3 linked regions of the Homo sapiens genome follow. The protein of the gene in region 3 interacts with the protein of the main gene of each other region in a biochemical or structural test. Each region holds a gene or a part of one and is shown on either strand. Other genes may lie near its edges. The genes, in order: CREM, GRK2 and KCNIP3.

Region 1 (7,604 bases), on a different chromosome or scaffold from region 3:
AACATGACATCTATACATCAATGTAAATACCTTACAGTAGCGTAACAGTAGTGTTTAAAATACACTCTGAATATTTTCAAGTCATTTCCAAACGTTTTTAAAGGCATCTAGGCAAAAAAGCACTTAGGCGATAACCTGATAGGACAAACCTATGAGAATTATGGAAAGAGTAACAACAACAAATTTTCACTTCTTTCACCTAAGGTGCCAGTGTCTACACAGGAAGATAGATTAACATTTTTAAAAAGACTTCCACATGCTGCGTTCTCTGTGTTTTATTTCACTGACAGGCCAGTGTGGCAGAAACTGAAGAGTCAGTTACAGAATGTCAATAGAACTGAGGTTGAGACACCCTGATGTAACAGCACTTTATCTGGCTCACCTAGAGCAGTTATTTTCTGTACACACTTTAAAAACAGGGTATTTTTAAACCATGGCTTTCCAAAGATTTCATGGGTCTCAGGATTCAGCCCTCATAGTAAAAGGGTTTGAGAGAGATCTAACTAACTTCTTACAAGTATGAAAATGTCAAAAGACACTGCTTTCTTGGCCCCTTGTGGCTAGACATGAGTAAATTGTGTATGTTTTCATATATTTGAATGTGTATTTTTCAGTTGATAATTAGTTTGATGTCACAGAAATAGTGCTTTAGAAAGAGCAGCCCAAGGTCAGGTAACCACAGTGTATTAGAAGTACAAAGCCTAGGCCGGGCGCGGTGGCTCACATCTGTAATCCCAGCACTTTGGGAGGCCGAGGTTGGTGGATCACCTGAGGTCAGGAGTTCAAGACCAGCCTGACCAACAAGGAGAAACCCCGTCCCTACTAAAAATACAAGAAATTAGCCAGGCGTGGTGGTGCATGCCTGCAATCCCAGCTCCTCGGGAGGCTGAGGGAGGAGAATCGCTTGAATCTGGGAGGCGGGGGTTGCGGTGAGCAGAGATTGCACCATTGCACACCAGCCTGGACAAGAGCAAAACTCCGTCTCAAAAAAAAAAAAAAAAGAAGTACAAAGCCTAGAACAGAGCAGCCACTCAAAAAATAGAATGAATGAATGAATGAATGAATGAATGAATGGCTATCATTTCCTCATGACAGATGATATTATAAAAAACTTAAGCCCCCTGTGAATCTAGGAGAGTTAAATGAGGTATGGTTTCAAATTCCAATCATAGAACCTAGTTTTTCAACACCAAATTATCAAGCTTTTAAATAACGATCAAGTCAATCTGAGGTGAGAGTAGCTGCCTCAGGGTAAGAACCCCTAAATAGGTAGATAACAAAGACCTTTACTTCCTTTTTTCTCTTTCTTTTTGCTTTACTCGTTTCCTTTTTTCTTTTCAGTAATGTTTCCCCACAGTTCTGATCAAAAAACTTTGTTTTCACAATATGAACAGCTGACACATCAAGAATCTGTTTCTCATTTTATTTTCTGGGGAAGTCATTATATAATTAGATATGGAAAACAAAAGCTAAACAAACACACACACACACCCCTCACACACTGGCTCTAGTGAGAAAACATTTCTACTGATTAAGTCAGGCACGTCAGCCTCATTTTCATTTTTATGCCAAAGGTGCTCTTGATTTTGTTGTTATCAAATGACAGAGGACCTTCCCATTGAAAATGTTCTCTCTCATCTGACAATAAACAAAATTTCCCAGTGCCTCAGGATCCTGGAAATAGGTTTTACGTGGGCCTGTCTGTATTCAGAGATTTGAGGAGAAAACTGTTTAGGTTTCAAAATAGTCAAGGATAGCATAACATGTGCTTTCAATAAACATAAATCAAGATAGAAAAAATAAGATGAAATTAACTGAATGAATTTAGACATATCTTCTATTTTAGCTATTTATTTAAGAGATGGGGTCTTGCTGTGTTGCCCCACATCCTGATATTGGTCTAGCTGGTCTTAAACTGCTAGGCTCAAGCAATCCTTCTGCCTCAGCCTTCTGAGTAGCTGGGACTACAGGCACAAACCACCAAGCCTGGCGATGTTATACACTTCTTATTTATTTATTTGTTCATTTATTTTGAGATGGACTTTCACTCTTCTCGCCCAGGCTGAAGTGCAATCGTGTGATCTCAGCTCACTGCAACCTCCACCTGCTGGGTTCAAGCGATTCTCCTGCCTCAGCCTCCAAAGTAGCTGGGATTACAAGTGTGCACCACCACACCCGGCTAATTTTGTATTTTCAGTAGAGATGGGGTTTCACCATGTTGGCCAGGCTGGTCTCGAATGCCTGACCTCAGGTGATCCGCCCACCTCAGCCTCCCAAAGTGCTGGGATTACAGGCGTGAACCATCACGCCCGGCCCATGTTATATACTTCTAATCCTAAATTTATACACATGAGCTAATTAAAATACATACACATGTAAATGTTTATATTTAAAACCACTCTTGTTCCAAATTGCAATCCAAAGATTCATAAATGAAATCTCACTGCATTAACTTTAAAAACAGCAGCAAACAGACCTTTGTTCCAATGAATTCTCAGGTTTAAATTCAGAGTGACCATAAGAGAGCACCTATGAGTACTTGTACCTTAAAAGCCAAGAGGTGCATTATAGCAGAAGGAAGACTAAATCATGCTATAACAACAATAGCAACATCAAAGTTTAAAAGCCAGAGTTACATTAAGTAGTGCCTTAAAAAATTTTGAAACAGTTGCCTTAGAGAAATGTAAACAACGTCACTATTAAGAACTGCAACTGGATTAACTTTCGAATGTGTAAGCCTATTATGTTCTAATTCCCTTTATGAAGAAGTTGAATTGGTGCTTATTCGTGAGCCTCCTGAGAATTCTGAATTCTTATAAGGAGTCCACAAAGTTCATATTTTTCTTTTCATAATGGTGCAGTTTAGATTGACCCACTTACCTTTCATGTATAAGAATTCCAGAAAGATGAGTTAATACTCTAATAAGATTCCTCGTAAAATACAATAGGCACAAGCAGAGACAAGGGCCATTTGTGGGAAAAAAACTGAAGTCTTGGGTGATAGTCTTTAATTGGTACAGGAAGAGGTTGGGTATAGTAGGATGGAGGATTTAAGTAACCTTTGTTTCAAGAGGAAATTTAATGAATTAGGAAGCTTCAAACATTTTAATTTCCTCGGTTGCTTTTACAAATTCACTCATTTACTGCCTATCTTAACTGTCTCATGCAGCAAGTAACATTCTTTGTTAATTCTAAGGCTGTCTCTCTCCCGCCATCTCTCGGGTATATGCTTCTGAAATAAAAGACTTTCTTCGACCAGCTCAACTGTTATGCAACACACCTATCACTAAGATCTGTACTTCCAGTGAGGATTCTGCAGGTACAGCTCACTTACTTGGTGTTGTAATAATGGATCCCTGTCTATTTTATGCTTTTTCCTACTCCCCAGGGAGCAGCCTATTCCAACTTTCACTTTTTAGTTTTTGTGATAATAGTAAGTCAATATAATAAGGCCAACTTCTGCCAAATATCTTTCAACTATTAAAAATGTAACTGCTTGTATATGGGAAAACTTGAATATACTTTATTTCTTCAACTTTGATACACATTTAGTTCTTTTAAACACCAGCTAACTCATTATTCCAAATTAAAAATAACTAATAAAATATTGGAAAAAAAGAAATAAAAGCAAAGTTTGGGAGAAAGCCATCCATGGATAAAAGCTGAACAATTAAACCTAAAATTTTTTTTTATAATAAAAGGTTATGAAAGAGCATTAAAAAAAATTTACAGCTCAAAGGGAAGGAAAAAAATAGGAAAATCTCCAGAAATTCTAATAAAATACGTTCCTCTATTCAAAAACCAAAGGAAACTGGCAATTGTTTCCATTTCTAGACATTCTGCTACAACATTAAAGCATTAATATCTGCTAAGTTAGTTCTATAAAAAATAAGATCAATAAAAATGGATGTTGTGTGTGTAAGTATGTTTACCCTCCAATTAAAGTAAACGTCTTCTAAAAAGTTTGAATGTTGTTAGTATTCACTTCTCAAAGAATTATCTACATATATTTCACTAAATGTCCCCAAAATGCATTTTTAACAAAAGAAATTCACATTGTGTGAACAAATGGCAATTTTTACCTGCAGACTGTACATACAGAACTATAACTTCTCATCAGAATAATTTCTAGGATCATACTGTATAGACTCAAATTAAGAAACCAAAGTAAGAAATAGTCCATGACCTCTTATGTGGCAAATAGACAGATGTGTTTTTTTTGTTTGTTGTTTTGAGACAGAGTCTCACTCTGCTGCCCAGGTTGGACAGTGCAGTGGTGCAATCATAACTCACTGCAGCCTCAAACTCCTGGGCTCAGAGAATCCTCCCACCTCAGCCTCCTGAGTAGCTGGGATGAGCGCATACCACCACACCCTGCTAATTTTTAAAATTCTTTTGTAGAGACAGGGTCTCACTCTATTGCCCAGACTGGTCTCAAAGTCCTGGCCTCAAGCAACCCTCATTGCCTAGACCTCCCAAAGTGCTGGGATTACAGGTGGGAGCCATCACACCTGGCCTAAGATCTAATTTCTACAGATGCAGTTTTCTAGTTCTCAACCAAAATTCCTGACTCTGCTCCTCTCATCCCCCCCACAGACACACAGAGTGAGGTTTAAGGCCAGCCCCCTGCTGTGAGCAGGTACCAAGGACACAGGGAATGAAGCCATTGGGGCTGGCTGGAGGGAAAGTTCAATGAACATGAATGAGACAATGGTACACCTAACTTAATTTCTCTGTTTCATGCCAATAGTAGCATGTCTTTTTCCCCCTACTTTTACCCATTATCTCCTTTGTCTTCACAGGAACCCCAGAGTTTGGCAATTTAGTATTATTCCCACTTCAAAGACTAAAACCTGAGATGTGAATTTAATAAAGCTTCTTGCTCTGATCATTGAGTTTGCAAATGGCACAAAGATGGTTCCTTCCACATCCTCTCCAGCTTCAACCCCATACATTTTCACAATTTCAAATTTTCAGCTAATAATCTAGACAAGTTAACCCTACAGCATCTGCTTCCCTATCAACTTGTAAAGGAATCACTGCTTCTATCAGAAGTCCTAAGTAGCATTAGCATATGCCAGAGAAATGTTACGATGACAGCATCTTAGTGGTTCCCAACACTTTGAGAAGTCTTAGTGTCATTTCAGCAGTCACTTCCAACCTTTTCCCTGTCATTACACAAACAGAACATGATGACATGTGTACAGCCCACTGGGGTGAGTGGATGGAGCTGCTCAAGGCCAGGGCTGACCAGCCAGGAGGCGCCAGCAGCTTCTGCCCAGCCCCTCTGGGGACGGGGGGACGAGGCACTCAGCACTCTCATAACCTGCGTGCTGTGCTGTAGAGGCTCATCAGCTGGCATATTCAGTTTTACAGTTCTAAAACCCACCAGAGATTCCCAGTGTGCCAGACAAAAGAGCATGTAAACGAGAGAAGTAATAAAAAAATGACAATGTAAACCTCAAGGTCTATTTCTTACAGATGGTGGGGATTTTCTTTTCCTAACACTGACTTTGGACAAGTCTACTGGGTGCCCTGTCAAACGTGTGAATACACTACACCCCGGATCTGCTAGGTATCATGGTAGGAGTTCCCCTCAATTACCAACAGAGAATGTATTTAATAGTTTACTACTGCAAATCTACCACTGCTACAAGAAAAACTCTAAAAAGCTCCACAAAAATAATGACTATATAAAGTCTTCTCATACATTAAAGATTATAGCTTGTTTTAGTAGTCAGGACTTAAATTAAGACTTGAGTTTTTTTTTCTTGGTATTGCTACTTTTTAAAGGAAAAACAAAGAATATATCTAAAATCTTAATACCTTATTTGGATAAACACATTATTTAATATCACATATATTCCAGTACCTAAGTAGCTCTTTTTAAAGTCAGAAAACTAAAATTATGAATCTCTTCAACAACATGACTGCTGTCAATATATTTGTTCAATTACTTTGAGGACCTAGGGTAGCAGAGTTTACAAAACTCACTTTACTTCATATTATAATTACATGGGAAATTGATTTAGACAACTTCCATGGACAATTTATACTTCAGAAAGGACAGGAATATCACATTATTCCAGTACCTAAGGGGCTAGCTTAGGATATGTGATATCCCTAACCTTTCTCCTCCTTTTTCTTTTCTTTCTAGCTCTTGCTTTTTACGTATCAAACACTCTTCTTTTGGGAAAAAAACTAGTGCTTTAATCAGAGCAAAAAGCACAGAATTAACGGTCCATTAAAATGCACAAGACTGAATGTGAATGTATCTGTTTATTTAGAGCTTTCAGTGTGTAAAATTTCAAATAAAATTATCTATCCAATTGCTACAGTTTAAAAAATTAAATCATTTTTCCATTCTCTTTTAGGAAAAACTGTAGCACAAATTAACAGAGTAGAGAGTAGTGAAACATTGAAAACATACTTTAGAAAACTCTCAGATTAGTAAGAATAGTATGTAATTGTGGGTAACAAAAGCCAACAAGAATGAAATACAGACATTTATGTTCGCATGCATCATAAAGACAACAAAAACAATGTTTTACTAGAGATTAATATAAACATGTAAATAGGAAAAATTCTCCTTTTTACCCCAAAATTTTCTTCTATATTCGGCAGTCAAAATTTTTACTTTTCAAAATTATATGACAGCTGTCAATACAAAGATCTCACTTTTTAACATATACTTTCATTCTATGATACAGTTTAGGTATTAATGATGCATTTTAAAATGGAACAATTTAATGCCAAAACCTGAGTTGCTTCAATATAACTAGAGAAGACTTAAAGCTAGCACTGTATCATATCGAATTGCAGCATACATACTGTATTGCCCCGTGCTAGTCTGATATATGCTAGTTGGTACTGCCATGGTAGCAATACTAGGTGGTGTTCCTTCTTCCTCTGATCTCTCTTCTTCAATCTTGGGAACACCAGGCACATCAGAGGACAGTTCATTCAGTATTTTCCTAAAATACAATTTAACAAGGTAAGTCACTAAGATACATGAATAAGTCTTAAAACAGAAAAGCTATAAAGGAAGAATTGATTTGATGTATAATTATTCTACCATTTTGGAAAAAGTATCTTTACATTAGGAAACTTGGTTAACTTACCTATAAGAGGGTCTTCGTGAAAGGATTTCTCTACGTTTATGAGAATCAATTACACCTTCTGATTCTGCAGATTCATCTGTCTCTGCAATTGCTGCTACCTATAATACAAGATTTTCTGAAATGTATCATAAAATATATGCTCTTTTCCCTCATTCAAAAAATTGAGGCTAAGAGTCTGTGTGTGCAGCACTGAGCCAGGAGCTGTGGAAGCAACTGAGCAATAGAACACAGTGAATCTGCACTGAAGGAGTCTGGCTCAAGAAAGGAAGCGCAGACGCAAACATTTCAGTTATAAAACAAATGTGTGTGGAAAGGAATGTTACGGGTACTCTATACTACAGAAATACTAGGGAAAGAGTGGTTGGGATGTCAAATGAGGCATTGCAGGAAAGAACAAAATGTAAAATACCCAAGACCTAAGCTCCTCAACCTGAAAGTGCTCCTACGAATCCAGGAGGGAGCCAGCGAGGGGCCAACGCAGAA
Region 2 (7,604 bases), on a different chromosome or scaffold from region 3:
TGGCCATTGTGACCCTCAAAACCCAACCCGACATCCCCCACCCTGTTTATCTCACCCCACACTGAGTGCTGTCTGGGAGCGCCACACCAGGCTACACTCCCGGCCTCAAATACCACCTTACTGTCCCCTCCTGCCCTCTCCTGGCCCACCTCAAGCCCAGCCCTGCCGGTCTGTCCCAACAGCCAGCTGAGGCCTGCATCTGGTCCTCACTAGTCTGGGCTCCTGGGGTAACGTGTAGCTGCCATGCTGAGGGCATTGCAAGGCTGGGGGCCTGAAGGGACAACACACCTGAGCCCATGTCACGCTCACATGGCCCTGCAGGTCTATGGGGCCACCAGCAGGCCTCCCGTGAAATGACTGCAGCTGGTGGAGATTTGGATCCGCAAGTCCAGGTTCTCTGTGCTTGCCATGGCCCCTGCCTTTCTGCACCCCGGCCCTGCCTGCCCCTAGGAGCCCAGCCCAGGGCTGGTCGGACTGGCCACCCAGGCTGTGGTCACGAGGACCCGCTGCACATCTACCCCTGAGGCACTGTGTACCTCATGCCAAAGCCACCCCCTGCTCCAAACAGCCCTGCCCAGGGCATGGTTCTGAGCCTGTGATACCAGACAGCGTGTGCAGAAGCCTTGGGAAGGAGAGGAGGCCTCTGGGTCTGGAAAGCCTGTGTGGAGAAGGTGGAACTCCACTGGGTTCCTGGAGTGCAAGTGGGATCTCGGCAGCTGGCGAAGCCAGGGGGGTCGGTAGACGTGGGAACAGGCAGGGGACAGTATGTCCAGGGATGAGCAAGGGGCCAATGGGGCAGGAGAGAGGGCACACAAAGGCCATGGTGAGGCGGAGGGCAGGGCCTTGCAAACCAGGGGGCTTCACAGCCAAGGAGTGGGCAGGAGAGCAGGACTCAGGAGGCTTGGTCCAGGGCGGTGGGTGGCCCGACTCCACTGGAGGCGCCACGCGGAGGAAGCCCAGGCAGAGGCAACACTTGGGCAGGAAGAAGGGGAAGGGGGTGGGTGGGAGAAGGCTCAGGCTGTCGGGGACCGGGAGAAGGGTTATGAGGCCAGCCCCGTGAGGGCTTCCAGGCTTTGGGCCCGAGGGTCTGGAAGAATGGCAGCTTCAGCCAGAAGAGCCGTCTGCGGAGAGCAGCTCCAGACAGTGCGGACCTGGCCTGTGGACCCTGCCTGGCCTCTGACCTCGGCCTCGAGAGGGGGCTCTTATCCGCTTCCACTGGGCACTGTCCTTCCAGGAAGGGCTGCAGTGGACTCCCGGGCCTCGGCCCCTGATCTCACTTGGTTCCAGCCTTCCTCAGGAAAGGCCGAGCGAGATAGCACGAGCACAGCAGGGCTGCCATGAGCACGGTTCCAAGGCCGCGACCCCCTGGCCTGCTCCCCACCCTCAGAGGCTGGGAGGGGCCGCGGCCTCTTCCAAAGTTGTCTCCAGCAGGAAGCAGGGCACTGAAGACAAGGATGGGCCTAGGTGACCCTGAGTTCGCATCCTATGACTGCTTTGGAACAGACCCTGCCTGGATGGGAAGAGGGGGGCCCATGCCCCCCACCGGGGAGTGAGGATGCCCTCTGAGAACTGACAGGAGCTCCGAGGATGGGCCCCGCGTCCACACCAGCACACCCGCCCCTTCGGGCCACACGCCAGCTCATGTCCACCAGCCACCGTCAAGGACATGTTTCCCGGCATGTGGGACTCCCAGGGACACAGGAAACGGTGGACGGAGATTGTGGTGTTTCACACACAGCAAGGGCTTCATAAAAATCTCTTGAATTGAGAAAGACACGGTCCCTGCCCTTGGCACCTGCAGACAGGAGGCCTGGGCCCTGGGCGACCCTCAGGGCACAGGCTGTGCACTGGGAGACTGGAACGTGGAGAAAACCCCAAGGTCAGGGGCCTGCATCTCACCTGGGAGGTGGGCCAGGACATTTTGGTCCACAGAAGGGGATGAAAAAAAGCAAAAAAAAAAAAAAAAAAAAAAAAAAAGGTGCTGGTCAAGCGGAAGGTAGCGACAGGCAGATGCAGATGACAGGCAAAGCAATCCCAGCCTGTAGGGGTCACCCACCAGGAGCCGGGCATTGTCCCAGGAATGGGGGCCACCGGGCTTCAGCAGTAAGCCCCACTGAGCCCCAGACTTGCTTCTTAGGAGCCTGCAAAAATGGTGCCAGCTTGGCGGGACGCGGTGGCTCACGCCTGTAATCCCAGCACTTTGGGAGGCCGAGGCGGGCGAATCATGAGGTCAGGAGTTTAAGACCAGCCTGACCAACATGGTGAAACCCCGTCTCTACTGAAAATACAAAAATTAGCCCAGCATGGTGGCGTGCGCCTGTAGTCCCAGCTACTCAGGAGACTGAGGCAGAAGAATCGCTTGAACCCTGGAGACAGAGGTTGCAGTGAGCCAAAATCGTGCCACTGCACTCCAGCCTGGGTGACAGAGTGAGACTCTGTCTCAAAAAAAAAAAAAAAAAAAAAGGTGCCAGTTTGGCAGAGGGAATGGCCACCTAGGAGCCAGGGAGTAGCCACTGCCACTTTTCAACTGGACACACAAAGTCTCCAAGGGGGAAGCATGCTTGGTTCCCTGCCTGCGACAGCCAGGGGAACCTGCCGGGCAGGCCCTTTCTCCTTCCCAGGGGCTCTGCTGTCAGCCCCGGCCTGGGAACAGCAGGAAGCAGGACCCGGGGCTCTGAGGCCATCTCTCCCCTCAGCAGCCACGCCTGGGCATGGCCACCACATTCTTCCCAGCCCACAGCACTCCACTTTCTTCCTTAAAAAGAAAAAAATGTTTTTTAAATAAAATAAACAACCCCCCTCCCCCCAAGCAAGAAACCAAACACGAGGTCAGGCCTGAGCAGAGTCCTTGAATGGAAGGCCCCCAAAGTGGCAATTTTAGGGTTTCCTGTCTATTCCCATGGGTCTGGCCGCCAAGGGAACTGGCAGGTTGGAAGAACTTGCCACTGGGGGCAGCTCCTGCCAGGGTGGCAAGCACGGGCGAGCACAGGGGTGGGACAGCCTCCTGGACTGGGTCACCTTGTCTCCAACACTGCTCCCTGATACTGGCAGAGTCTGGAGTGGCAGTGAGCCCAGAGCGTGTCCCTGTCCCCCACCCAGGTCAGCAACCCTGAGATCCGGGGGAACGTGGCTCCCAAGATCTACTCTGGAGCATCAGGAGAACCAAGCGGCCTCAACAGTCCCAGATGGAAGGACGCTAAGGTTCCCAACACCTTTGGGCAAGGGCCTCAGAGTTGCCTTTGCTCTGGCCGTTGGACGGGTGCCTGGGTTCCAAGTGGCCCTCACCACCTGGTCACAAACTTGAAATGTCCAGTTTCCCCAGCTGTAAAATGAGGATGTCAATGAGATGCTGAATCGCCACCGTCACACTGGCCATTTACAAAGCCTGGGTGGACACGGCAGAAGGAGGGCTTCTAATATGCCAGGCTGGCCATGCTGCCCGCCGTGCCCCGCCTGCTGGGCCATGGGAGAGAGCCGCCAGAGCCCCATTTCTCAGTGCCCCACGGCTCACCGACAGTCCATGCTAGAATCACACAGTAACTGGTCTTGCTCAAGCCTCTGCTCCACATTTGCCGTGTCCTCGGAGAGGATGGGGCCTTGGAGGATGGGGCCTGTGGCCAGGGCTGAGCCGAGCAGGGTGGGACTCCTCTGCTCACAGACCAGCTTCAGGCACTGCATTGCTCTACTGCGGGCCCAGTGGGTAGAGCCCGTGGCTTGCCCTGCCAAAGTATCAAGGGCTCCTTGGCACAGAGGTACTTGGTGCCCACCCAGCTTTGGGAAGGAGCAGTCAGTCCCACCTTGGCACCCCTGCAGTTACAGCGGCCTGCACCAGCTCCTACTGCTCCCGGAGCAGGCTCAGCCCAAGACAGTGAGCAGCTGCAGCACTGAGCACTGGGTGACAGGGAAGGAGTGGGTGCTGAGGGAGCACTTCCGGTCCCTTCTGGCACCTCATGGTTCAGAAGAAATGCAAAGTCCAGGCCATCCTCTGTGGCCTGGGCTCTCTTAGGTGTCTCCTGCTCGGGGTCAGAGGCTGTAGCTGTGTGGACAGGAGGGGGTGACAAGTCAGAGACAAACACACTCTTGCTGATGGCAAGGAAGCTGGCTGGGCCACGTGCTCCGAGGCCCACAATGAGTTCGTGGCAAAGAAAATGTCCAAAGGCTCCCTGAGAAACGGCCTCCACTAGAGCACCCTCCATCCCCCCCTTGACCTCTGTGGAAGAGCTGGGTGCAGGGCTCAGAGGACCCTGACTTGTGCCCAGCCTCTGGCCTGGCTGCCCTCCCGTCCCTGACCAGGAGCTGTAGGAGACGAGCAGCCCCCTTCCCTGGAACCCAGGATGGGAGGCAGCCTTGGCTGGCAGCTGGCAGCCAGGGGCCATGCTTCCTGTGCCCCTCATGTGACAGTGATGCTAAAGCTTTGCCACGCCAGGACGGTGCAAGCTGGCATGAAGGCTACAGGCCTGGCAGGTCTGGTGCGGCCACTCTGGGAACCGTCCCCTGGGAGATGAGCGAGCATTCACCAACCAGTGCAGCAGGGCCTGTGGCTGTGGCCGAGGTGCTCCCTGTGGCATTTCCAGGAAACCAGACACCAAGGTGCCAGCAGCAGAAGGAAGTCCCCTGGGGCTTCTTAATGTTTCTCAATGACTCTCCCTGGGGCGAACAAGGACGGGGCCACAGATCAAATAGGAAAGGCCAGCCCAAACCGGCAGGTCCAAGGTAAGCCCTGAGCAGGGGAGAGAAAAAGCCAGCTGGCCCCGCACACACAGCCAGGGTCTGCAGCAGCCTGGGCTCCGGAACGTCGTGTCGGCCACAAAGCAGCTCCCTTGCGGGGATGCTCAGGAAGAGGCACTCTGGCGGCCTTGTCAAATGTCACGGCTTCTTCACAAATATGACATGAGCACCCACACCCTGCAATTTACTGCTGACATGGAGACCGTAATCTGCATTACGCTAGAATGCACCAAGAACAAACTTCCAGAATTCCATGCCCTGTGGTTTCCAGGAGGGGGTTATCCCCCATCCCAAACACGAAATGGCTCTAGAGTCAGAAAATTGCCCCCACCTGGGAACAGAGCTGCCAACATGTTAATACCAGAAAACCCACTTCTGCCAGCATAGACGCGTCCTTTTGCAGTAAACAGCAAAGCAGAGAAGGGATATTACTGTTTTAGAAAAAAGCTGCAGTCAAACACCTCATTTTTAGTATCTCAGTTGCAGCAGAGTAGAAATAACGTGAATATAGCTCCATCCAGCAGTGGAAACTGACCCATGGGGAGCCGGCGGGGAGTAGGGAAGGGGCCCAGGAAGAAGGGGCAGGTGTGAGGGAGGCTGTGCATCCTCAAGGGCTACACTGTGCTTTTGGTTCCCACTGTGTGTTCCGAGGCAAGAGCATACCCTGAAAGCAACAGCCAAGCGCGTGGAGCCCAAACCCACCAGCCTGAGCACTCAGTCCCTCTGCCAAGCCCACCTGGGTGCAACCTAGGCACGGGGAGGAAACACTGGCTGCGGAGCGCTCCTGTACCTGACGTCACCGGGAACTTACTACTAGGAATTGATTGTGCATTAATAGGACACCTCATTCTGGGTTAACAGCCCAGGTTCCCCTGCACAGATTCCAACCTGCATTGCTCACACTCCCTTCAAATCCATTTACCCAGGTAACGGCAGGCGGGCGACTTAATGGCAAATAAGTGAAACGCATGCTCTGGAAAGGAAAACAGACGGGAAAGACATCCCAGAGACCCATTCCTGGGGAACGGCGGTGCTTCAAAGGCCCAGAGGGAGTGACTGCAGGAAAGATCATCTTGTTTGCAGGGAAAGGAGTTGGGAGAACGCTGCCACTGAAGTGGAAAGTTCTGGGTAAGGGACAAAGGCTGGAAGCAGCAGGGTTTCAGCTGGTGCTGCAGGAGTGAAGGAAGGAGGGAGGGAGAGAGCTTCCCGCTGCACCCCTTCCCCCACAAATCGAGGGCAGGAAGTTCTGGCTGCGAAGAGTTAACAGGAACGAGGCAGCGGAGGAACAGGGGCAGGGTCTGGGGAGACAGGGAAGCCAGAAAGGGGCAGGAAGGAGGAAACTCTCGGTGGGGGAGGGACCAGGAAACAGCCAAGAAATCGGGAGGCTGCAAGAGGCACCCAGCTCCGACAATCTGCTGCTGGGGCTGCCACTGTCACCGGGGAGGGCAGAGGAACCTCCTGGGAGCGCCCAGGCAGGGCTCCTCAGCTAGGAGCCCAGAGATTAATTACACGAGGCCTCAGTGGTCATATTAAGCAAATGATGATAATTACAAGACTGCTGGCTGCTGGGAAAGGGAGACAGCAGTTCCTTCAGGGCAAGGCCCAGACCACAGACCCTGAGAGTGAAGGGGCAGCCGCCTCGTTTTACAGAGGTGGAAACTGAGGCAGGTCCAGTCGGGCTAAGGGACTCGCCTGGGTCCCATGTGAGCTGGTGGTAGAGGGAGAAGCCAGACCTCCCATCTTCCAGATACACAATGCTGCCTTACGCTACCTCCTTCTACAAGAAGGTCGGGGAAAGGGACTGTTTCCTTGGATTCTATAGGGTGACAGAAGGGGAGGCCCCTGTGCCAACTCAGTGTGGCACTGTGCCTAACCACTCCCATTCCCTAGCCTTTGGAACTCAGAGCTGTGATGCCAGCCCCAGTTCTTGGCCAAGACACATCCCCAGGCACCAGCCATGGAGGGGCTGCCAAGGTGGGCCACCTCAAGGTATGAACAATTCCCAGTGGCAACCTGTCACTGGGACAAGCCACAGCCCCTCTCCCTGACTCTGACCTTGACCTTGTGGGTATGGGGAAGACAGGCTCCTGCATCTGACGGGACCCTGGAGTGGGGCTGCCCCTCGGTGCAGTAGCTTTGCCACGGCAGCTCAGTTCTCCATCCCAGCCAACGGGAAGAGGGCTGAGCCTTGTGAACTGTGACAGCCGATGGCCCCAGACAAGGGGTGCCAGTCAGCCCACACCGCAAAATGTGGACAGAGGCGAGAACAGTGGTGTGCAGGGGTGGGTGGAGGGGATAAAGCACAGCAAAGAAACAGCACTGGCCTGTGTGGTCCAGAAACCCGAGGCCCCATTCCAGCTTTCTTCTGTGACGAGGACACGACTCCTCCCCTCCCTGAGCCTCAATAACTTCAACTGCTAAAGGGGAGAATCCTAACTGCTGGGCCTGCCTCTCACAGTTGTCAAAAGGACAAAACAGAGTAAAAAGCACTCTGCAAGTGGAAAAGTGTCAGGCAAACATGAAACATGGTCAGGATCACCACTGGGGCGGCGGGGGGCGGGGGGCGGCGTGCTCTGCCCCACTGGGTGTGCAAGGCAAGGCGTTATGCAAAGGGTGGCCTGCTCCCTAATGCCCCAGGCCTGGACCCCCATGTAGGGGTGGCCAGTAGCCCTTCCCAGGCCTTAGCGCACTGACATTCGGCGCTCGCACCTCCAGTCCGTTTCACAGATGTGGGCGATTTGCGGAAGGCCATGCTGCTGATGGTGACCCAATGTGAAAACCTGGGCTGCCTGGCTCGGCCTCCTGCTGTCCTCCTAGAATCCTATCCAACCTTGTTTCTGCTCAGGACTGCATGGGGGTGCCACACAGTCCTGGTA
Region 3 (7,604 bases):
CCTCCCGGGAAGGCTGGGTGAGCCCAAAGGGCAGGCTGAGCACCTCCCAAGTGGATGTCTATGTTGAGCTGAAAGTAATCTCGTCACGACAACCCCCTGCAATCGGTAAGACGATCCCCATTTCACAGATGAGGAAACTAATTCCCTGAGAAGTTTTGGGACATGCCAGGGCCACACTACACATATAGTCTTCTGATTCCAAAGTTCACATGGGCTTGACCACAGGCTTTGCTGCTGAGGCTGTTTCTCGGCCTGGGTCCCTGGGGCGGTCTCTGGAGCTGGGTGTGTTCCGAAGCCCCTCAGGCACATCAGCAGCCTTCCAAAAATATCCGTTGAGGAGTGCTGTGATGCCCTCCTGGGCTAGGGGGCCCCAGTGTGTCTTTTCTCCCTGTGGAGAGAGTCTGGGTGGAGTGGTGGTGGGGGTTCCGGGCCAGGCTCCTCCATCTGGCTGAGGGGCCAGAATCCCACCTGTGAGCCCCACAAGGCAGGCCCATGATGGGCACCCCTCTTTGTGAGGCAGGGGGTGGGTTCTGAGAAGAGAAGGGAGGGGAGGGCCAGGGACAGGAGGGCAGGGAGACCCCAGCAGCCGAGCCTGGGAAGCTGGGACTCATCAGGCTGCGGCCTGGGCCCTCAGGCTGCTGGGGAGGCGGGAGGAGGTCATCCTCATGAATATCTGACACTTGTCTGTCTGGAAGAGGGTCTGACTGAGCTGTCAGGGAATGTTAAATAGCAGCCCAGGCACCCTCCTGCTGGCTTGGGAGGCTCACAGCATGGAAGGGAGGGCGTCCTAAGAGGCGGCCCCCTGGCCCCTCACCCCACAGTGCCTTGGTGCTGGGAGAGAAGCTGGGGCAGTGATGAGATGGAACATGAATTAGATGCCCCAACCCTGCCGGGAGCCCCAGTGCCTCCTTGCCAGGCCCTGACAGCCCCACCGTGCCCCTCCAAGTCTGCTCCCACACCACCGCCTTGGCACCTGCTGCTCCTGGCACTGGACACTTCTGCCCCAGGCGTTTAAGGCCTCACTCACGGCTCAGGTCCTAGAAGAGCCCTGCCTGACTACCTAGGCCACCCTCCCCCATGCACCTCCATCTCAGCACTTCTTCACCCAGCCCTTGTGAACTGATCCTATTATTGTGTTTTCTGTCTCTCCCCTTTAGCGCATCAGCTCTGCGAGAGTGGAACCTGATCCTCATGTGACCTGCTTTTCCTCGTGACACAGCCTGGCACCCAAGAGATCCTCACTCCCAAAACTCAACAGTAAAAGAGCAAACCATCAGGTTAGAAAATGTGAAAGACATGCACAGACATTTCACCAGAGAGGACACGTGGATGGCAAAGGCGGCGGGAAGAGATGTTCGCCGTCATTAGCCATTCTGGCAACGCAGAGGAGGACCGCTGTGAGACACCACCATGTGCCTGTCCGAACAGCTAGAACCAAAGATAATGACAACTGAAAGCTGGTGAGGATGTGGAGAAACGGAATCACCCCTCCATTGTCGGTGGAAAGGGAAAACGCCTTAGCCACTCTGGAGAACAGTCTGGCAGCTTCCTATAAAAACTAGGCATGCGCTACCACAGAGCCCGACCACGGTATTTTTGGCCGTTTATCCTGAAGAAACGAAAAGTTATGTTCAAGTGAAAACATGTACACAAATGTTCATGGCAGCTTTACTTGGAACGGCCCCATACTGGAAGCAACCCAATGCCCTTCAATGGGTGAATGATTAAACAAACTCCAGTGCATCCATACCACGGAATTCTGGACAAGTAAAACAAACAAACTGTTGGCGCACACCACACCTGCGTGAACCTCCAGAGAATTACGCTGAATGAAAAAGCCAACCCAAAAGGTCACATTCTGTGTGATTCTATTTATATAACATTGTAAAATGACAAAGTTTTAGAAATGGAGAACAGATTAGAGGGCCAGGGGTTAAGGATGGGGGGAGGCAGGCAGGAGGGAGAGGGGTGTGGCTCTCACAGGGCGGCAGGAGGGGCCTTGAGGGGACAGAGCTGTTTTGCATCTTGATGGTGCTGTTGAGTGCCTGAACCTACACGTGATAAAAATTGTAGCAAAAAATGCACACGGAAATGAGTGCGTGTGAACTGGGAAATCGGACTAGGACTGGTGGGTTGCATCATTGCAGACACTCCAGTTGTGCTATTGTGTTGTAGTTTTGAAATATGCTGTCATTGGGGAAACCAGGTTAAGTGTACATGGGCCCTCTTTGTGAGCTCCTGCAACTGCATGTGAATCTACAACGAGCTCAATAAAGATTTCCATCAAAAAATACTCTCATGCACCCAAAAAGAAGGTGTTAAAAACGCAAGCATGCACAAGGCTCTGAATAAATATTCACGAATGATCAAAAGTCCCCTGTGCTCTTCACAATTCACCTGGGGCTCTCTCCTCCCACTCCTGCTCGATGCCGGCCTCATTTTAATGGGTGACAGAACTGTCATTGTCTACCAGCTTTAGAGGATGGCCAGGGTTGAGTGGCAGAGACGAGTGAAGCCAGAAGATCTGGGCCCTGGGTTCAGGCAGAGTCCCTGGTGGCATACTTGGCAGTGTGGGCATTTAGGGCTGTGTCCCAGAAACGGCCCTAGGCTGGCCCTGGGGACCTGCAGCCTTCTCAAAGGTCACAAGTTTCCCTGAAGGATAGAGGCTGCTGGTGAGCCAGGCAGGCCATTCTCTGCCAGTCACCTGGTGGCCGAGATCTGTAGCTCCTGCCCAGCCAGGCAGGCCAGGACCAGGCCTCAACTTCCTTCTAAGTCCTCCTGGCCTGTGGGGAGCCAGGGAGGGATGGAAAAAGATGGCGTGGGTGATGCCCCTGCTGTGTGCTGGTGCTGAGTTAGTTGTTTGGAGGGGTTATCATATTTAATGGTCACACCAACTTTTTGAGGTTCCTTAGAACCTCAAAATTACCCAAAGCACCCAACTGAGCCCCAAATCCGGTAATGGATTCTAGCTCACCCGTTCTCATGCAGCTTGCCAGGGTCCCTGGGGTATGCGTTCTCCTGTTATTCAACAGGGGTAAACCCAGCCTGTTCTGAGTCAGCTGCGTCCTGGGGGCTTTGGCCTGAGGTCTCTGGCAGTGGGGAGCTGCACCTACGAGGTGCAGGAGATGACTTAGACTCGGGGCCAGCACACTCTCCAGCTCCCCACTGCCATTCTCTTTACAAAGGGAGGGCACGGCCTCAGCTCAGAGCCTCAACAGGCCACAGACCATGGGTGGGAGTTTATCGCTGCTGCCTTATTTCATGGCAATGTGGTGGTTACCTTCCACTTCTGCTCCCGGCTTCCCACTTACAGTACTGATTTAAAGATTCCCTTTTAAATGAATTCACTAAAATTCAATGCATGAGTTAATTTAAAGAAAAATAATAAGAAACAATAGCACAGGTCACAACAGATACAGCAAAACGGTAAAGGCAGGAAGTGTATGTTTCTCTCTGTGGCTGAGGCTGGGGGCTTGCTCGACTCAGCCAGGCGACCCCTCAAGTCTGAGTGACGGCGGCCTCTCGCCAGGCTGCTGAGACTGACATGTGGCTGGTCCACACTGAGACGTGCCCTCGTGTAAACACACACTGGGTTCCAAACATTTACTTACTAGACTATCAAATAGTTCATTAAAAATGCTTTATATCAATTGCAGGTTGAAATGATAATCATTTACACTGGGTTTAATAAAACATATGGTTAAAATAATTTAACCTTTTTTTCTTTCTTTACTGTGCCTACTGGCACATTTTAAGTGACATCTGTGGCTTGCATCATGTCTCTATTGGACAGGACTGATCCGGATGGTTCTCAGACCTGCCAGCCGGCAGGCTTGGGGCAGCATCCTCCTGGCAGGGCACAGCCGCCCCAGCTGCTCTCTGCCACTCAAGTCCAGCTGGACTCGCAGCTGCCTCAGAAGGGTGGCCTGGTGGAATGTGCAGATCAGATTGGGGGTTCGATGAGGCAGGCGGCCATCTGGGGGAGGCGAGGGATGCCCAGGCCCAGGAGAGCGGGGGAAGGCTGAGCCAGGCGGAGGTCATGGCTGGGTGCTGGGGATATTATGGAGACAGGTACTCAGGACCTACTCTAGATGTGGCCAGTGAGGGAGGGGCGGCGACTTCCCAGTGCCTGAGAAAACTGTCACTGCGGGAATGTAGGAGGCAGGGCTGTCCCCCATGCCTTCCTCTCCCCCTGAACACAGTCCAGTCTCTGCCGCAAACACCACACCATCATCCCGAGAGTTTCCACACCACAGACAGAGGCTGAGCACTTGGAACAAACCTCCAGGACCTGGACCGGACATTTTGCCTCGTGGCTCCCTACACTCTAGGTCCCCTGAGAGGCCAGGTGGCCCACGGAGCAGCGTCCCACTCCTTGCCCCATGCCCAGCATGGCACAGCTTCGTCTTGAGGAGGCCCATCTGGCTGAGAAGATGGAGTCAGACTGTCAGGAGTGTGCCAAGGTGAAACCCTCGAGCCGCTAGTTCAGTCTCCATGGTTCTCATCAACTGTGCTCCAGAGAAACTCCCAGAAAGCCTTCCAGAGCAGATGTGGCAGAGGTGACTGGGGGGCACATGACAGCCTGTGAGAAGTGGGGGTCCTGGAAAACCTGCGTTAAAGTATCCAGGCTCCCGGGTGGCGTTCTAGGAGTACATGCATGGGCAAGATGCATCGCTGACTCCTCCCAGATGTCTACAGACTTAACGGATGCAAAACAGAAGTGAGTGGCTTCGTATGTGCCACCAGGGCCCCTGGGTGTGGGCTCAGAGGGCACGGCTAGTTGGGGGCAGGGCAGGAGATCGAAGGCAGGTGGATGTGATTTCCAGCAGCCGAGGACAGTGGGAGGGGTCTGTGGCCAACCAGTTACATGAATCCCGCACCCTCGCTTCCCAGCTCGGTGACCCTGACAGAGAACCTGACAGCTCCGAGCCTCAGTTTACTCATCTGCAAAATGGGGGTGACAATGTGCCCTCACAGGGTTAAGGGGAAGGCAAGGTGACAAAGCCCCCAGTGGGGGAGAGTCAGTGTTCCTCGCCCTTCTGATCCCAGGGAGGGTCTGGCTGTCCAAACCCACAGCCTAGCATGCCTGGCAGGGAGGCCCAATGTGCCGCTCTCAGCTGCCACATGCCAGAATCACGTGGGGAGGCTCTCACCATCTGCCTGCCCAGGAGCTGGATTGTTTGATGCAGAGAGGGCTGGGCTACTCTGTTCTTATAAAGCTCCTCAATAGATCTGAAAATGCAGCTTGGGGAATTTGTTTAGAGTGTCTGTCCCTCCAGATAGAAAATTCTTGGCCTTGCCTGAAAGGCAAAGGGGGTCCCCCGATTCTCACCCCCTTCCTTTCCGGAAGGGCTTCACCGAGGCCAGGGCCAGCATGAGACATCCAGGCTACTCAGATGTGGGGCTCCCCACCCCCCACCCTGTCCACGGCTGCTGCGGTGCAGACTGGCCCACCCAGCACTGCTTGCTGTCACTGGCTCTATTTCCATCACTCGGGACAGATGGCAGGAAGCAGTGGTGGGCGTTGTGTCGTGCAGGCCCCAGGGTATGGAATGGGGAAGCTTTGGGGAGCCTGGATTCTCCACCCACCCCTGGGCACAGACAGACATAGGCAAGGCAGCTCGCCTTGTCGGGGGAGCCGAGGTTGTCATGAGTCCCTGAAGATGCATGTGTGCACATATGCACATACACACACACGTACACATGCCTGCAAACACACCTATGAGCGCGCACACACACACACACACACACACAGCCCTGGGCCCCAGCCCTCTGGCAGCACTGGAGCAGGAGAGCTGGGCTGTCCACCCCTGCTCTGATGGCTGCCACCTTGACAAGGACAAGCTCCCCATGCTGCCTGGCAGTGAGGGTGTCACGTTAACCCAGGGGTGAACTTGAGTTGCCCATGGCCAAATTGCCTCTTGGTGGCCTTCCCAGGCTCTCCTCAACAGTCAGAAGGGATGGCATAGGTATTCCCTTCATGTGTGGAGGCCTCACTCTGTGCCAGGGGCCAGGCCAAGCTGGTTGGTATAGGATCACATTTATCTGGGGGTTCTGTGATATTCATACTTCCCCCAGGAAAATGAGGACACAGTGGCACAGATGAGCTAAGTAACCTGTCAGAGGACACACAGCCAGTGTGTGACAGGGCCTGGACTGAGCCCAGGTCTGCTGGTGCAGTCAGGGCTCACAGCCAACAAGGCACAGCCATGATGCCTCTTGGCCATGCCTGTCTCCTGCCCGGGGTCCTTTAGTCCCGCACAGTGAGGATCAGGGCTCTGCGCAAGACCCATGGACATTTGTGTGCACATGTGGGGCACTGCTGGCAGTGGCCCTGACTTGAGTCAGCCAGGCCCGTGCCTCCCAGCCCTGCACTGCTCATCACAAGGCCTGGCAGATGCTGTGAGCATCTCTCAGACCCAGATGGGAAGACTGAGGCCCTGAGTCAGTGGGGCAGAGGTGGGGCTACAGTTTGGTTCTCTGGAGCACTGTCCAGAGTGCCCATCTTGAGAGAGGATCCCACGACAGAGCTGGGCACAGGGGCATGTGGCACCAGCAGCAGAGGACTGGGATGCAGGGGACTTGTCCCTTGCCTACCCTGGCATCTGCCTACTGTCCATGTGATAAAGGCTGGGGAAGGCTGGGGGCGTTGGGCAGGCTGGGAGGTGAGGCCAGAAAAGACCAGCAGCTGCTTTTCCTGGCTGAGCCTGGCCCAGGCATGGCCAGGCTGATGGAGAGGGCATGCTGGGCAGAGAGCTGAGGTGGCAGGTCAGAGGGGGAGGCTGGGCCGACTCTAGTGTGGGACACGCCACCCCCACGCTGCCCTCCCGTCTCAGCTCAGCTGCTCCCTCTCCAACTCTGCAGGTCCCCTTGCTTCTTTCCCTGCCACAGGGCTGCTCTTTGGCCTTCTAAGGCATGGGCTGATCTCAGATGACAGACGCACCTGCTCAAAGGCAACATCAGTCAGCTGAGGCCGGGAGCCCTGGGCAGGAAGCAGCACGGGACTCGCCCCATGCTGTGCCCTCCCCCGACTCTCAGGCTCCTGCCTGCCCCAGGTCTGGGCACTAGGCCAGAAAGACGTGCTAACTTCTCTCCCCTCTTCTGCTTCACCTTGGAAACTGAGAGTGCTTTCTTCCGTGCAGAAGCCACATTGGCTGCTCCTGGAAGTCACTGGGATGCCCAGGGGTGGGCTGGGGAGGGCAGGGGGGCTCTAAGGCCCCTCTGCTAAGTCAGTAAAGCAGTTCCCTGCCTCACACAGAAGGTCTTGATAAGACAAGGCAGCCTGAATTTAAAATGTTGGGGTCCTTTACTTCCTAGCTCTGGATCCACAGTCCAAAAATGGGAGGCAGCTAGCTCCAGGTCACGTGGCTAACGCAGGGGATGCGGCCAGGTGGAGTCTGGCTTGTGTGCACTCACTGGAGGGCTCAGAGGGCACAACAGACCACCGGCCGCACGGCTGGGATGGGCCCCTCCTCTGCCATCTGGTTAAAGGCATGCCCTTCTCCTCCTGCGTCTTCTTCCGCAACCCCCAAGCCCTAGGGACTTGCTGCGCTCTGGAGTAAGACAGAGCAGGGTTCAAATCTCAGCCACAACTCTTGTAGCCT

The links.
Region 1: the proteins of KCNIP3 (region 3) and CREM form a complex in vitro, tested with the Homo sapiens proteins (one study listed by BioGRID).
Region 2: the proteins of KCNIP3 (region 3) and GRK2 form a complex in vitro, tested with the Homo sapiens proteins (one study listed by BioGRID).

The regions. Positions count from the first base shown.
Region 1 is NC_000010.11:35,178,504-35,186,107, reverse strand, and holds part of CREM (cAMP-responsive element modulator), read right to left. Parts: intron 7,237-7,604; exon of another isoform or gene 7,220-7,236; coding exon 7,122-7,219; intron 6,975-7,121; coding exon 6,832-6,974; coding exon of another isoform or gene 6,779-6,831; exon of another isoform or gene 6,261-6,778; intron 1-6,260.
Region 2 is NC_000011.10:67,268,869-67,276,472, reverse strand, and holds part of GRK2 (beta-adrenergic receptor kinase 1), read right to left. Parts: intron 1-7,604. UniProt on the Homo sapiens protein: Specifically phosphorylates the agonist-occupied form of the beta-adrenergic and closely related receptors, probably inducing a desensitization of them. Key regulator of LPAR1 signaling.
Region 3 is NC_000002.12:95,300,003-95,307,606, reverse strand, and holds part of KCNIP3 (calsenilin), read right to left. Parts: intron 1-7,604. UniProt on the Homo sapiens protein: Calcium-dependent transcriptional repressor that binds to the DRE element of genes including PDYN and FOS. Affinity for DNA is reduced upon binding to calcium and enhanced by binding to magnesium. Seems to be involved in nociception.